Linked DNA regions of Homo sapiens. The gene in region 1 interacts genetically with each later gene. Each region holds a gene or a part of one and is shown in the gene's direction. Other genes may lie near its edges.

Region 1 (5,142 bases):
AATTCTTAGTAGGAGACTAGTGAGCGATAACAAGGCAAGAGCTGCAACATTGTATGCTACCTGTACATAGAAGTAAGTGGTTGAGAGTAATGTTGGGCCTGATGCCTGCCACAGCTCACCAGGAATGCCTCAAATGTAAGACCACAGATCTTGGGGGATAGCTGTAAAAGAAGGCTGGTAGATGCCATTGCCAGTCACCAATTGGCACAATAGCATAGGGGCAGAAGACTAGAGGAGGAAATCCAGAGAACTTTGGTGGGTGGAGGCGGGCACAAATGCAAAGGACACATGGAAAGAAATTATTTTGACTTACTTTTCCAGGTAGAAGATTTCGTGGATCCCAATGGCAAGATCTCTCTACAGCGGGAAGAGACACCATCAAACCGGTAAGAGCAGACCAGAGGCTCAGGGGCTTGGGGAGGGAGAGTCAGAACTTTGGGGCTCACCAGGCCATGTGCCCTTTTTCTACAGAGGAGAGTCAACAGTGCTGAGCTTTGTGAGCTGGCTAACACTGAGTGGTCCTGAGCAGTCTAGTGTTCGGGGCCCATCCACTGAAAACCAAGAGGCCAAGAGAGTGGCCTTAGAGTGTATAAAGGTAACTGCCCATCCACCCCTGGTGAGAAAGCCTAAACACCTTCCTATTAGATGCTACTTGGTGAACTGAAGAATAAATCATCCAGGATTTGTAACCAGGGCTGACTCTGCCCTCTCCCCCTGGCTCTTGGGGACATTCTGTTCTCTTCAGCCTTTGTCAAAGACCCCCTCTCTCTTTTGCCCTCTCTAGCAATGTGACCCAGAAAAAATGATCACAGAAAGCAAGTTCCTCCAGCTGGAGTCACTACAGGAGCTCATGAAGGTAAAGGATGAAGAAAGGAAACATGGAACAACTGGCTGAATCTGGGAGGGGTGACAGGGACAGTATTATTTCTGTCAGGGCAGGGCCAGTGGTTGGCTTCTTTTCCATGCCTACTTTCCTGCTGCTGTTCCCCTTCAGGCTCTGGTCTCAGTGACACCAGATGAAGAGACATATGATGAGGAAGATGCTGCTTTCTGCCTAGAGATGCTGCTAAGGATTGTGTTGGAGAACAGGTAAGATGAGCGTAGTCTTTAGGCAGACCCCATGCTGGGCTTGTGCCAAAGGGATGGAAGCCATCTTGCTGAGTGGGCTCTGGGGAACTGTAGGCAGCAGGGGAGAAGCTTACTCATCATACCTGTCTACTTAGGGTATAATACCAATGAGTCCTGAAAGGCCTAGGGGACCTGTTGCCCAGTGGCCCCTCTGGCTGAGACTATCTTCATTCCTTTATGTCTACACAGGGATCGTGTGGGCTGTGTGTGGCAGACTGTTCGAGACCATCTATACCACCTCTGTGTTCAGGCACAAGATTTCTGCTTCCTTGTGGAGCGGGCAGTGGTGGGGTTGCTACGCCTGGCCATTCGGCTTCTCCGGAGAGAAGAGATCAGTGCTCAGGTAAGCAGAATGCATCTTGGAGAGTGGGCAGGTATGCAAGGGATTAAGGCCACAGTTGTCAATTATGAATATGGCCTGAGACAGAGAGTACATTTAGTGCCCCATAGCATGAGTCCAGTGACCAACCACAGGGCTGGTGCAGTCTAGCGGGTGGTACTGGGAGTGAGCCTGGAATGGCCTCAGGCATGGAGCTTGTGTTTGGCACCTCAGCCTCCTATGAATCTGCTTTGTAGGACTGGCCTGCTACTGCCTTATAATAGTCTCAGCCCTATACCTGGTTTCCTGTCATGCTTATGACCCTCTTGAGATCTCTTTGCTTAACTACAAAAAACAACAAGCATAGAACTAATAAGTGGATTCAACAAGGTCACAGGATGTGAGATCAATACACAAAAAGTAATTATATCTCTACATGCTAACAATGAACAATATGGAAACTGAAATTTAAAATACAATACCATTTACAAGGGTTCCAAATAAAGTGAAATACTTAATATATAGCTGACAAAACATGTATAAGATTTGTATGATGAAAACTACAAAACTACAAAATAAATTGAAGAAGATGTAAATAAATGAAGAGGCATACTATGTTCATGGATTGGAAGGCTCAACATAGTAACTTTGTCACTTCTCCCCAAATTGATCTGTAAATTCAACATAACTCCTATAAAAATCCCAGAAAGGTTCTTGTAGACATAGGTAAGCTTATTCTAAAATTTAGATGGAAAGGCACAAGCTCTAGAATAGCTAGAAAGAATAAAGTGGAAAGAATCACTCTCTCTGGGCCGGTTGCTGTGGTTCATGCCTGTAATCTCAGCACTGCGGGAGGCCACAGCGGGCAGATCACTTGAGGTCAGGAGTTCAAGGCCAGCCTGGCCAACATGGTGAAACCCCATCTCTACTAAAAACACAAAAATTAGCAGGGTGTGGTGGCACACACCTGTAATCCTAGCTACTTGGGAGGCTGAGGCAGGAGAATCGCTTGAACTCAAGGCGGAGGTTGCAGTGAGCTGAGATCGCGCCACTGCACTCCAGCTGGGTGACAGAGTGAGATTCTGTCTCAAAAAAAAAAAAAAAGAATCACTCTGGTATTAAGACTTACTGTCCACTTTGGGGGGCTGAGGCGGGTGGATCACGAGGTCAGGAGATCAAGACCAGCCTGACTAACGTGGTGAAACCCCGTCTCTACTAAAAATAGAAAAATTAGCTGGGCGTGATGGTGAGCGCCTGATTGCTACTCGGGAGGCTGAGGCAGGAGAATCGCTTGAACCTGGGAGGCGGAGGTTGCAGTGAGCCAAGATTGCGCCACTGCACTCCAGCCTGGGCAACACAGCGAGACTCCATCTCAAAAAAAAAAAAAGACTTACTCTCGGCTGGACACAGTGGCTCACGTCTGTAATCCCAACACTTTGTGAGGCCAAGGCAGGCAATCACCTGAGGTTGGGAGTTCGAGACCAGCCTGACCAACATGGAGAAACCTCGTCTCTACTAAAAATACAGAATTAGCCAGGCATGGTGGGGCATGCCTGTAATCCCAGCTACTCAGGAGGCTGAGGCAGGAGAATCACTTGAACCTGGGAGGCAGAGGTTGTAGTAAGCCAAGATCACACCATTGCACTCCAGCCTGGACAGCGAAACTCTGTCTCAAAAAAAAGACTTACTGTATAGCTATAGTAGTCAAGATTATGTGGTGTCGATGGAGGGACAGACACGTAGATCAATGGAAAAGAATAGAGAGACCAGAAATAAGCTCAACACAAATATGTTCAGTGGATTTTTTGACCAAGATGTAAGAACAATTCAGTGGAGGAGGAATAGCCTTTTCAATAAGTGGTGGAGTGATTAAAATCCATAGGAGGAAAAACCAAATGAACCTTGACCTAAACCTCATACCTTACAGGAAAATTAACTCCAATGGATCATAGATTTAAATGTAAAGCTATAAAAACTTTAGAAACAGGAGAAAATCTTCAGGATCTAGAGCTAAGCAAAGAATTTTTAGCATGTTTGGCAGTCCTGTGGATCTGTCTCTTGCCTCAACACTGTCTGGATGGAACAGATCCGGGGGAGACTCTCTTTCAAAAAAAGTAATAATTTTTAGACTTGACATTAAAAGCACAATCTAGAAAAGGAAAAATTGATAAGTTGGGCTACATTAATATTTTTAAAAGTTTTGTTCTATGAGAGCCTATGTGAAGAGGATGAAAAGACAAGCTGTAGACGAGGAGGAAATATTTGCAAATCACATATTTGAAGAAAGGTATCTGTAATATAAAAACTCTCAAAACACAACAGTGATAAAACAATCCAATTATTAATAGAAAATGGACAAAACATAGGAACAGATGTTTCACCAAAGAACACATACAGATGGCAGATAGGCACATGAAATGAAGATAGCATCATTAACCATCAGAGTACTGCAAACTAAAACCACAATGAGGCTCACACCTGTAAGCCCAGCACTTTGGGAGGCTGAGGTGGGTGGATCACCTGAGGTCAGGAGTTTGAGCCCAGCCTGGCCAACATGGTGAAACCATGTCTCTACCAATAAATACAAAAATTAGCTGGGCGTGGTCACACACACCTGTAGTCTCACCTACTGAGGAGATTGAGGTGGGAGGATCGCTTGAACGCAGGAGGTTGCAGTGAGCTGAGATCGTGCCACTGCACTCCTGCCTGGGTGACAGAGCAAGACTCCAAAAAATAAAAACACAATGAGACATCACTACCCACTTTTCAGAATGGCTGAAATAAAAAGTAGTGACAATACCAAATGCTGAAAGGACGTGGAGAAACTGGGTCATTCATATATTGCTGGGTGGGAATGTAAAATGGTACAGCTACTCTGCTGGCAGTTTCTTATAAAATGAAACATATAATTACCATACAACCCAGCAATTGCACCCTTGGACATTTATCCCAGAAAAGTGAAAGCTTACTTTCTCATAAAAACCTGTACATGAATGTTTATAGAAGCCTTAGTTGTAATAGCCAAAAACTGGAATCGGCCCAGATGACTTTCAATAGGTGAATAAACTGTGGTACATACACACCATGGAATACTATTCAGCAATTTAAAGCAACAGACATCTCCAGGGAACTATGCTGAGTGAAAGAAAAGCCAATCTAAAAAGGTTATGTAATATATAATTCCACTTATATAACATTTTTGAAATGACAGAACTTTAGAATTTGAAGACAGGCTGGGCGCAGTGGCTCACACCTGTAATCCCAGCACTTTGGGAAACTGAGGCTGGTGAATCACTTGAGGTCAGGAGTTCGAGACCAGCCTGGCCAACATGGTGAAACCCCATCTCTACTAAAAATACAAAAATTAGCCAGGCGTGGTGGCTCGCACCTGTAATCCCATCTACTTGGGAGGCTGAGGCAGGAGAATCACTTGAACATGGGAAGCAGAGGTTGCAGTGAGCTGAGATCCTGCCTGCACTCTAGCCTGGGCAACAGAGTAAGACTCCATCTCAAAAAAAAAAAGAATTTGAAGACAGATTGCTAAGGATTAGGGATGGGGGCAGGAAGGAGGAGGTGGGTGTGGTTATAAAAGGGCAACATGAGCTGGGCATGGTGGTGCATGCCTGTAGTTCCAGCTACTCTGGAGGCTGAGACAGGAGGATCACTTGCGCCCAGGAGTTTGAGGCTGCTGTGAG
Region 2 (3,500 bases), on another chromosome or scaffold:
GGAATATTTATATGTACTACCTAATGAGATATCTTGGGGCTGGGACCTAAGTCAAAGTACAAAATTTGTTTGTTTTATATAGACCTTATACACATAGCCTGAAGTTAATTTAATACAATACTTTTCATAATTTTCTGCATGAAACAAAGTTTGTGTACATTAAACCATCAGAAAGCAAAGGCGTCACTGTGACCGCCCACTGGATTCACCTTGCCCGCTGCCCAGATGGAGCTGACTTACCAAGATGGGAATTGCAATAGAGAAAGAGTTTAGTTCACACAGAGCTGGCTAAGTGGGAGACTGGAATTTTATTACTTAAGTCAATCTCCCCCAAAATTCAGAGGCTAGGGTTTTTCAAGGATAATCTGGAGGGAGCTGGGGACTAGGGAGTGGGTGCTGCTGATTGGATGAGGTGCAATCATAGGGGTGTGGAAAATGGTCCTTGTGCCTGCCGAGTCTGCTTCTGCATGGATGGGTCCACAGGACAAGCTGGAGATCTGGATGGAGTCATCAGAAGTGCAGAAGCCTGAAAAGACATTACAAAAGGCCAATCTTACGTTCTGCAATGGTGATGTTATCTGCAGGAGTAATTGGGGAAGTTGCAAATCTGTGGCTGATTTGTTAGTCCAACAAAGGCAGTCTGGTACCCAGACAAAAAGAGGGTTTGTTTGGGGAAAGGGCTGTTACCATCTTTGTTTTAAAGTTAAACTATAAACTAAGTTTCTCCCAAAGTTAGTTCTGCCTATGCCCAGGAGTGAACAAGGGCAGTTTAGACGTTAGAAGTTAGATGGAGTCAGTCAGGTCAGATGCCTTAAACTGTCAATTTTGTCATTGTTAAATTTTTTGCAAAGGCAGTTTCGTCACTATCTCATGTTGGTGCTCAAAAAGTTTTGGATGTTAGGACATTTTGGATTAGGGATGCCCAACTTGTAATAGATGACATTTAATATTTATTTAATACTTATTTAATACTACCTAAATACTTGCAAATACCTGCAAAAACAAGGAGGGCCTGGACAAAAGTGAGTCTCCCTCGGTGCCACTGTATCTGCAGCACTGAGACTGTTTGGTGTAGATACCAAATAAATACCTGAGTGAACCAATAAATAAATGAATAAAAGGAGCTAGCACTGAGTAGCACATGGAGATCATTCCTTGGGGCTGCCTAGTTATCCTTTTCTATTACAAAGACAGAAAAGAGTTGCTTTGCGTTTAGGAATTTTTAAGTGATTTAGTCACTTAAAAACTTGAGTGATTTGAAAACAGTATGACTGGAGTTGATAAAACCTTTAAATCATTAAGGCTGAAAGGAACCTAGGACATTCTGGAATCAAATCCTTTCATGTCCCTGTTGGGGAAATCCAGGTGCCAGATGTTACAAGTATTTAAGTTAATAACTGGTTAAAAACTGACTAGGCATAGGTTAAGGCATAGGTCACTTAGCAAAACCCCACTAACAATGTTTAGTGGCTCTTCTGAGAAATGATATGTATGATCCAGTATCCCCCAGCACTTTAAGTACTCATTGTTGTATCTGTATATTTTTTAATAGAGAGAAAGTAAAAATTCATCAGTCTCATCACCAAACCAGTTGTGCCATAACACTCTCATAATTTGATGAATTCGTCTGTCAGTATCTATTTCTGTCTCTCTCTCTTGTTTGCTCACTGGCTCTCCTTCTGCCTCTACACACATATCCACTATATGCAATTCTGCAAACTATTTTATTTTCCCACAAGTCCAGGACATCATTTCTGTCAACATGTAAGATGCACACTCATGTTTTTAGTGGTCACAGAATATTTCATTTGATTCCTTCCTCATATTTAGTCATAAAGTTTCTCTTTTTTTTTTTTTTTTTTGCTATTATAAACAAAGCAGAAGTGAGCATATTTTCACATGTATATTTCATTCCTAATTGATTGCTGCCTTGAGATAAATTTCTAGAAGTAGAGCTGCTGGGTCAGAGAATAGGTGCATTCATATGTTCTTATCTGTGTTGAATGGCATTATGGATAATAGTCCATATTCTACTTACTAAAATGAAAAAGTATATATATCACCTTATATGAAAGATATAGGCCCCATACAGAAATTATTTTAATAATGGTATCTCAGATCAGTTGAAAGTTTCGCCATTTTAAGGAATTATTTTAAAAGGCGAGCATTACCTCCTTACTGTATTTATTTTGGAAGAACACAGTGCCTTCCTATGGGGTTCTTAAGGAGGGCTAGCTATAGCCTGAAGTGGGAGTCCACCTTATAGCCGAGACCAGAATATGGGAGCAAAGAGGTTAGCTGTGTGCTTGCTACTTCATGGATGCTTTAAGATAATTCTTGGCAGAATACACTGCTGATACCTATGCAGATGATAGCTTTTAATGCATGTCAGACATTCAAGAGTAGCTTGTCCCAGGGGCTTTATTTATGGCAAATCATGGTTCTCTCTATGAGATTTAAGTACATGGTTTTCTTTCCTTCTAGAAAAGCCGGCTGGGCGCGGTGGCTCACGCCTGTAATCCCAGCACTTTGGGAAGCTGAGGCGAGTGGATCACAAGGTCAAGAGATCGAGACCATCCTGGCTAATGTGGTGAAACCGTCTCTACTAAAATTACACAAAAATTTTAGCTGGGTGTGGTGGTACATGCCTATAGTCCCAGCTGCTCAGGAAGCTCAGGCAGGAGAATCGCTTGAACCCGGGAGGCGGAGGTTTCAGTGAGCCGAGATCTCGCCACTGCACTCCAGCTTGGCAGCAGAGCGAGACTCCATCAAAAAAAAAAAAAGCTAGTGCAAACATGGCAGTCTTTCAGCTTAGCCCCGCAGAAAAGAAAGTGATTTTCCCAGGAACTCTTATCTTATGTAGTCTGAACTTTAATGCAGAGCTGTCTGATAGTGTCGTAGCCGTGACGGAGAAGGCCGTGGGGCCTGGAATCTCCTTGCTGTGCTCTGTGGCCCCGGCCCTCTGTGGACGCGTAATGTGAGAGTTTTTAAAGAGTAACTTTCTTTTGTCCTTCTTTAAGATATAGACCCCAGTCCCTCCTTTAAAATATTGGCTCGTGCTGTAATTTCCACTTTGCCTTTTGCCCTTTGACCATCTGTGTGACAAGAAAGCCATTCCAATGGTTCAGTAAGCACCCGCTGAGGCTGGCTCCCCACAGGTCCAGCTCGAGGTGCTGGTGGGGACAGCCCACCCTCTGCTGTGTGCCGTGATCCCAGCTGGAGCTGCTGCACACCCAGAGGGAGCCGCCTCAGTCACACGCCAGCAGACAGGTGCAAATGGAGTGATGCAGACAGAAAGAAAGGAAATCACACCTCAAGATTTATTTTCTTTCTAGAAACACCCGCCGGGCAGCAGAGGTCTGGATGGATGAATACAAAAATTTCTATTATGCAGCAGTGCCTTCTGCTAGAAACGTTCCTTATGGAAAGTAAGTGGCAGTTCTGCCTTCTCACAATTACTGGGGATTCTTGGGGTGTGGGGGTGGGAGGTAAGGGGCTGC
Region 3 (3,933 bases), on another chromosome or scaffold:
TGAGAAGCAACAGGGTGTCACATTAAGAGCACAGACTCCAAAGTTTTGAACCCCTATTCAGCCACTTGCTGTGGCATTGGACGAGGGATTCAGGGTCTCTGTGCCTCAGTTTCCTTGGCTGTGAAATAGTCTAAGAATAGTACCTACTGCCTAGGGTTGAGCTGGGGATTCACTGGGGTGGTAGGCATGGAGCACTGTAACCCACCTGGCCCAGGGAAGGTGCTGTGTAAGTACTGTGTATTTTGTTGTGGTTAGTATATTATGATGTGGCAGACAGTTATGAAGTACAGACATAACAGGTGACATTCATTATCCTCCTGCTACCGCCATTCTCAACCAGGGGCAATTTTGACATCTGGGGACATTTGGCAATGTTTGGAGACATTGTGGTTGTCACAGCGTGGCGGGGGGGGGTATGATTGGCATCTCCTGGGTAGAGGCCAGGGATGCTAAATCCTTCTGCAAAGGACAGCCCCTGTGGCAAAAAATTCTCTGGCCCCAAATGTCAATGGTGCCATTAGAAACCTTGCCCTGGCCAGGCACAGTGGCTCATGCTTGTAATCCCAGCACTTTGGGAGGCCGAGGCGGGTGGAGCACGAGGTCAGGAGATCAAGACCATCCTGGCTAACACGGTGAAACACCCCCACCCTGTCTCTACTAAAAATACAAAAAATTAGCCAGGCGCGGTGGCAGGCAGCTGTAGTCCCAGCTACTCGGGAGGCTGAGGCAGGAGAATGCCGTGAACCCGGGAGGCGGAGCTTGCAGTGAGCTGAGATCACGCCACTGCACTCCAGCCTGGAAGACAGAAAAAAAAGAAAAAGAAAAAGAAACCTTGCTCTAATAGAAGCTTTCTGGTAGCACCAAAGGCCTCTCTGTCCTTTGTAGCACTTGCCTTGGCTATAATTTTGCATTTATTGGTATGATTATTTGCTTACTACCCATCAAGTCCCAGGATGCCATTTCTTGGCTGTGTGACCTTGGGCCCCTGGGACTGCCTTTCAGAACCTCCATTTCCTTCATCTGCAAATGGGATTGTAAATATGTGATAAATTCAGAGTTGAGGTTAAGACCACAGGCTCCAGAGTTAAGACGTACCTGTGTTCAAGTTGCATCTCTGCTAGTGGTGAACTTAGGCAAGTCACCTGATGAACCTCAGTTTCCTCCGCTGTGAAATGGGTCTAATAATTCCCTTCCTCATTCAGAGGGTGAATATGGGAATTAAAGGAGCTCATAATGGTGAAAATTATTTTATTATTATTAAATCCACCATCCAACAACTGGTTTTCTTTGAGCCCTAAGTATGTTCCGGACTTGGTGACTATGTAGTGGGTATTATGGGCTTAACGGGCAATGTCTGCCTTGCAGAGCCCATCATCTCATGATGTGGGAGGGGTCTGGCCTGGTTCATCCTCCAGCACTGACTTCTGACACTCCCACCCCACCCCTGCCCTCTTGCAGATCTGTGCCATCATTGGCGGGACCTTCACCGTCGCCGGCATCCTGGACTCATGCATCTTCACAGCCTCTGAGGCCTGGAAGAAGATCCAGCTGGGCAAGATGCATTGACGCCACACCCAGCCTAATGGCCGAGGACCCTGGGCATCGCCAGCCTTGCCTCCAGTGCCCTGTCTCCTTTGGCCCTCAATCTGGTCCCAAATCTGGCTGTGTCCCAAAGGGTGTGTGGGAAGTGGGGGGAAAGTAGAGGATGGCTCGATGTTTTGCAGCTACCTCTTTTCCCCGTGTTTCTTTTTAGACAAATTACACTGCCTGAAGTTGCAGTTCCCCTTTCCCTGGGGAGCCCCAAGAACAGAGTCAGGCAAGGGGTGGGGAGTCCAGGGATCTTGGGGACCCCTCCTAGGAGAGCTGCAGTCTCTTCCCTCAGGGGAACATCCCAGAATGCATATCGATCAGCTCTCAGCCAGGCTTCGACAATCTCGCAGCCCCCACTAGGTGGACACATTAATGATTTGGTTTCTCCCCTGGGCAGCCAACCTGCCCCAGAGGCACCAGACCTGGGCTTTCAGCTTTGGGACCAGGCTGCCCAAAGGTACTCCTTTATACACCCGGCACCTTCCACGAAAGATGGTACTTCCCAAGCAAGCCCCTATGATTTGTCACTATAGATGGAACCCTGACTTCTGCCCCATCCCTTCCTGCCCAACCTAGAACCCAGGCCTCAAGTCTTTACCCCACCCCTTTCTTGTTCTTCCAAGAAGCAGATGCCCAGTTGCTCAGCAGCAGCGGTAGAGACTTGAATCTGCCCACCAGTCACAAGGCGGGTCACAGATTCCTCTTCCTCTCTTCTCCTCGTTCCTCTGAACCCTCCACCAATGTGCCTCAGCCTGTGTGCTGTGTGGCAACAGCATTCTGGTTCCCACTGCCAAGATCTCCCACCACTCTGCTGGGATCTGCAGTGGCAGGGAGTGGGGGTTGTGTAAAGGGGAAGTCATCTTTTGAGATCCAGATAGACATGGTTTGTGCACTTACGTCCAGATGGGAAGCATCCTTCCTGCAACCCTAAAATAATCATGCAGCCTCTCAGACGGACGCCATCGGTCCCAAGGCCTTAGGTGGAGGAAGCAAAGCAGGCCAGGCCTGTCCTGTCCGTGGACCTCTACCTTCTGGACTCCCTACGGGTGCAGAGCACTTGGGTTTCTCTACAGCCATCGTGGCCCACTTGACACTGTGCTCCTCCATCAGCTGGTCACATGCCAACACGTTCCCAGCCCCTGAGGCAGCTCCAGGGTGCCCCACCTGCTCCTGAGGTGGGTCCCTACCCTGCTGCTCCTCTTCATCCTTTCCCTTTTGTCCTGAAAGGGAGGAGCAATGGTCCAGGCATTAATTCCACCCAGGGAATTTTAGCTATGCCCTCATGTCCCAGGGAGAGAGCCACACGCCTGTTTTCCATTTATAGCAAGATTGTTTGCATACTTTTGTAATGAAGGGGAGTGTCCAGTGGAAGGATTTTTAAAATTATCTTATGGATAGCTCAAGTCTCTGCCATTTGTAATTTTTGGCTCTAAGCTCCGATTGGAGACGCTTCTCCTTGTGCATGTGAGTTGACTGATGTTGTGAGTGTAAATGCATTTGGTTATTTCTGGTATCGGTGGCCACTTGGATGGATTTTTTTACATTCTGTTCCCCAGTTACAGGAAGGAGTCCCTTTGGTGTGTGAATATGTGTGCCTGTAGAGGGTGGGGCAGGGTGGGGTGGGGATGGAAATGTGTGGCATGCACATGAGTTGAAATTCTTTTATGCATTTTTTTGAAGAAAAAAAAAAAAACAACTCTGAGGACATAGGGGATGTCAGTTTCCTATGGAAGAGACACCTCTGACCCGTTATTCTTATAATCAAAATCTGAAGGGAAAAAAATGTTTTAGTTCTTTCCCCACTCGTTGGGTTCAACTAGATTAAAAGGCTGATTTTCAGAAATATTATGGTGTGATTCTTTCTACCTTGACTGGGGCTGGGTGACCCAAAGGCTGGAATCACAGCCAGAATGGAATTCACTTCTAGAGGAGAGAAGGTAGAAGAGTTGAAAAGGAGATCTGTGAGGATGATCAGAAAGTCAAACCCCGGCCAGGCACGGTGGCTCACGCCTGTAATCCCAGCACTTTGGGAGGCCGAGGTGGGCCAATCAGGAGGTCAGGAGATCGAGACCATCCTGGCTAACATGGAGAAACCCCGTCTCTACTAAAAATACAAAAAATGAGCCAGGTGTGGTGGCGGGCGCCTGTAGTCCCAGCTACTCCAGAGGCTGAGGCAGGAGAATGGCATGAACCCAGAAGGCAGAGCTTGCAGTGAGCCGAGATCGTGCCACTGCACTCCAGCCTGGGCGACAGAGCGAGACTCCATCTCAAAAAAAAAAAAAAGTGAAACCCCCTTTGGCCAGGTGCAGTGGCTCACACCTGTATTCCCAACACTTTTGGGAG
Region 4 (3,500 bases), on another chromosome or scaffold:
AGGCCAGGTTGGGAGGATCACATTGAGGCCAGCCTGGTCAACATAGCAAGACCCCGTATCTATTTGAAAAAAATAAAAATAAAGCAATAGCGTCTGTATTTTATTTTGTTTATTTTTTTTGAGATGGAGTTTCACTCTTGTCTCCCAGGCCAGAGTGCAATGGCATGATCTAGGCTCACTGCAACCTCTGCCTCCTCAGTAGCTGGGATTACAAGCGCCCGCCACCAAGCCCAGCTAATGTTTGTATTTTTAGTAGAGACGGGGTTTCACCATGTTGGCCAGGCTAGTCTCGAACTCCTGACCTCAGGTGATCCACCTGCCTTGGCCTCCCAAAGTGCTAGGATTACAAGCATGAGCCATCACACCCAGCCAGCTTCTGTATTTTGTATATATTTTTTAAATAATTATGTTTTTTTTCCTTTTGAGTAGCTGAGACAACAAGGACATGCCATTAGACCTGCCTGGCTAATTTTTGACATTTTTTGTAGCAAGAAGGTCTCACTATCTTGCCTGTTCTTGGGCTGAAGCGATCCCGCCCACCTCGGCCTCGAAAAGTGCTAGGGTTACAGGGCGAGCCACTGAGCCTGGCTGCATTGTCCTATTTTAAGTCTGGTTTCTGTATCTTGATCCATGATAAGATGTAATGTTGTTAAGTGAATCCTTAAATTATGTATATATCCAAAAATACTAATGTGTTCTGCAGAGGAATTACTAATTCTGATCTCTTTACTTTGAACTTTCCAGTTCTTGCCTGTTGAAAAGCTGAAAAAGTGTTACTTTTAAAAAGTTTGCTGATATCAGTGTAGTGTAGTATGCCAGTGTAGTTCTGTATTGTCTTGAATGTGACTGTGGTTTTGGGGGTCTAGAGATGTTCAGGAGAAAGGATCCTATATTTGTCACTTTAAAAAATATTACCAAGCTAAAGAGTGGTGTTTTATATTTGTTTCTTAGCATATTTTGTAAATCCATCTATTTATGTAATTTTTTTATGTTTTTCCTCTTGATTCTAAAAGTAGTATGTGTTCCTTCTGTTACATTTAGAAAACAGGTAAAAGAATAAAGTGATAATTACCTATCTGTAATTCCACTATTCTGTCATATTTACTCTCAGCCTTATTTTTATTTTTATTTTTTGAGACAGGGTTTTGCTCTGTCACCCATACTCTGGGGCACATACAGGTGGCATGATCATAGCTCACTGTAGCCTTGAACTCCTGGATTCAAGCAATCCCTCCTGCCTTAGGCTCTGGAGTAGCTAGGACTACAGGCGCCACTATGCCCGGCTAATTTTTAAATTATTTTGTAGAGAATGGGGGTCTTGCTCTGTTGCCCAGCTGATCTCAAACTCCTGGGCTCAAGAGGTCCTCCTGCCTCGACCTCCCAAAGTGCTAGGATGACAGGTGTAAGCCACCACACCTGGTACACGCTCAGCCTTTTAAGAGGAAGTTTTTGTTCCTCTAAAATTGTAGTTGTGATGTTTAGTTTTGTGTCCTCTCTTTTTGATTTAGCTTATTACAAGCATTTTCTCAGGTTATTGGTTGAACATATAACTGCCAGCCTTTAAAAAAACAGGCTCTTCTGATTATGTGAATATAGGAAACAGAAAAGGCAAAAATCCTGTTTCATGCCACTGGCTGATAGGTACAGCCATCCTTAGATGCACCCTTTTGCATTATTATAGTAGTGCAATAGGCTGTCGGAAACTTTGATAATTTGCTGCTAATTAACTGATAAAAATGTAGATGTTTCTCATCCGTGTGTAGAAGCAGAACCTAAGTTCACATTTTTCCGTATAACTGGTGGCCTGAGTTTCAGTTTGGTTGGTCAAGCATCTGATGAATTTGATAAAAAATATTTGAGATGGAGTCTCACTGTGTCACCCAGGCTCGAGTACAGTGGTGCAATCTCAGGTCACTGCAACCTCCGCCTCCTGGGTTCAAGCAATCCTTCTGCCTCAGTCTCTCCAGTAGCTGGGATTACAGGCCCCCTCCCACCATGCCCGGCTAATTTTCATATTTGTAGTAGAGAGGGTTTCACCATATTGGTCAAGCTGGTCTCAAACTCCTGACCTCAGGTGATCCACCTGCCTCATTCTCCCAAAGTGCTGCGATTACAGGCATGAGTCACCGTGCCTGGCCAAAATATTAAGATACAGTATGTCCACCAGAAAAACCTAAAGGCAGGATGGCAGCATGTAAATAGTATTTGAGGTCTCTGGCATCAGAACTAGGTTTTTTGGTTTTGGCTTTTTAGAAAATTTTTTAATAAAAAAATCAAGATATAATACATAGACCATAAAGTTTACCCTGTTAAAGTGTACAGTTCCGTGGGTTTTAGTATATGTATTCAAAGTTGTGTAACCATCACCATTGTCTAATTCCAGAATTTTTCATCATCCCTCAAAGAAACCTGATACCCATTAGTAATAATTCCCATTCCCCTTTCTTCCCAGCCCGTAATCTGTTTTCTGTTTCTATGGGTTAATCTATTCCGGACACTTCATTTAATGGAATCATGATTTATGGCCTCTTTGTCTGGCTTTTTTCACTTGGCATGATGTTGTCAAAGTTCATTCATAATGGCCGGGCGCGGTGGCTCACGCCTGTAATCCCAGCACTTTGGGAGGCTGAGGCGGGCAGATCACGAGGTCAGGAGTTCGAGACCAGCCTGGACAACATAGTGAAACCCCATCTATACTCAAAATACAAAAATTAGCCGGGTGTGGTGGCAGATACCTGTAGTCCCAGCAACTCAGGAGGCCGAGGCACGAGAATCCCTTGAACCCGGGAGGTGGAGGTTGCAGTGAGCTGAGATCGTGCCATTGCACTCCAGCCTAGGTGACAGAGTGAGACTCTGTCTCAAAAAAAAAAAAAGAAAAGAAAAGAGAAGAAAAAAGTTCATTCATATTATAGCGTATATTAGTACTTCATTCTTTTTTTTTTCCTTTTCATTAAATTCACATAAGCACCTCATTTCTTTTGATGGCCAAATAGTAATTACATTGTATGGATAAACCACATTTTATTTATCCATTCATCAGATGATAAAAATTAGGTTGTTTTCACTTTCTAGCTCTTCAACATTCATGAACAAGTTTTTGTGTGGGCATGTGTTTTAAATTCTCTGATAAATACTTAGGAGCGGAATTGTGTCATGGTAACCGTCTTGAACATTTTGAGGACCTGACAAACATTTCCATTTTACATCCTCGTTTACATCCCCACTAGCAATATATGAGGGTTCTAATTTTTCTGCAAGACTCAGGTTTTTAAATATCTGTTCTTCTGTTTCTGTGACTGTGGGGGACATTTCTGGACATTAAATGTCTCATCTGAAAAATGAAAGGTTATTGTGAGAATTAAAGTCCAAAAATGTATAGAATCACCTACTATGCTTAGAATGCAGTAAATATTCAATTTTAAATTATTATTTTAAACTATTACGCAGCCTGGGCACCATACCATGGCAAGACCTCATCTCTACAAAAAAATTTTAAAAAT

Evidence for each region. Genes that interact genetically often act in the same process or in processes that back each other up.
Region 2: changes in GBF1 (region 1) and GALNT2 together harm fitness less than expected from each alone (positive genetic interaction), as found in Homo sapiens cells (one study listed by BioGRID).
Region 3: changes in GBF1 (region 1) and ERGIC1 together harm fitness less than expected from each alone (positive genetic interaction), as found in Homo sapiens cells (one study listed by BioGRID).
Region 4: changes in GBF1 (region 1) and ARF4 together harm fitness less than expected from each alone (positive genetic interaction), as found in Homo sapiens cells (one study listed by BioGRID).

What each region holds. Positions count from the first base shown.
Region 1 is NC_000010.11:102,369,390-102,374,531, forward strand, and holds part of GBF1 (Golgi-specific brefeldin A-resistance guanine nucleotide exchange factor 1), read left to right. Parts: intron 1-321; coding exon 322-386; intron 387-471; coding exon 472-595; intron 596-784; coding exon 785-856; intron 857-994; coding exon 995-1,089; intron 1,090-1,317; coding exon 1,318-1,471; intron 1,472-5,142. UniProt on the Homo sapiens protein: Guanine-nucleotide exchange factor (GEF) for members of the Arf family of small GTPases involved in trafficking in the early secretory pathway; its GEF activity initiates the coating of nascent vesicles via the localized generation of activated ARFs through replacement of GDP with GTP.
Region 2 is NC_000001.11:230,259,238-230,262,737, forward strand, and holds part of GALNT2 (polypeptide N-acetylgalactosaminyltransferase 2 precursor), read left to right. Parts: intron 1-240; exon of another isoform or gene 241-344; coding exon of another isoform or gene 345-526; intron 527-3,335; coding exon 3,336-3,428; intron 3,429-3,500. Other genes in the region: uncharacterized protein LOC124904542, read right to left, coding at 345-526. UniProt on the Homo sapiens protein: Catalyzes the initial reaction in O-linked oligosaccharide biosynthesis, the transfer of an N-acetyl-D-galactosamine residue to a serine or threonine residue on the protein receptor.
Region 3 is NC_000005.10:172,949,251-172,953,183, forward strand, and holds the end of ERGIC1 (endoplasmic reticulum-Golgi intermediate compartment protein 1), read left to right. Parts: intron 1-1,458; coding exon 1,459-1,566; 3' UTR 1,567-3,433; downstream 3,434-3,933. UniProt on the Homo sapiens protein: Possible role in transport between endoplasmic reticulum and Golgi.
Region 4 is NC_000003.12:57,590,845-57,594,344, reverse strand, and holds part of ARF4 (ADP-ribosylation factor 4), read left to right. Parts: intron 1-3,500.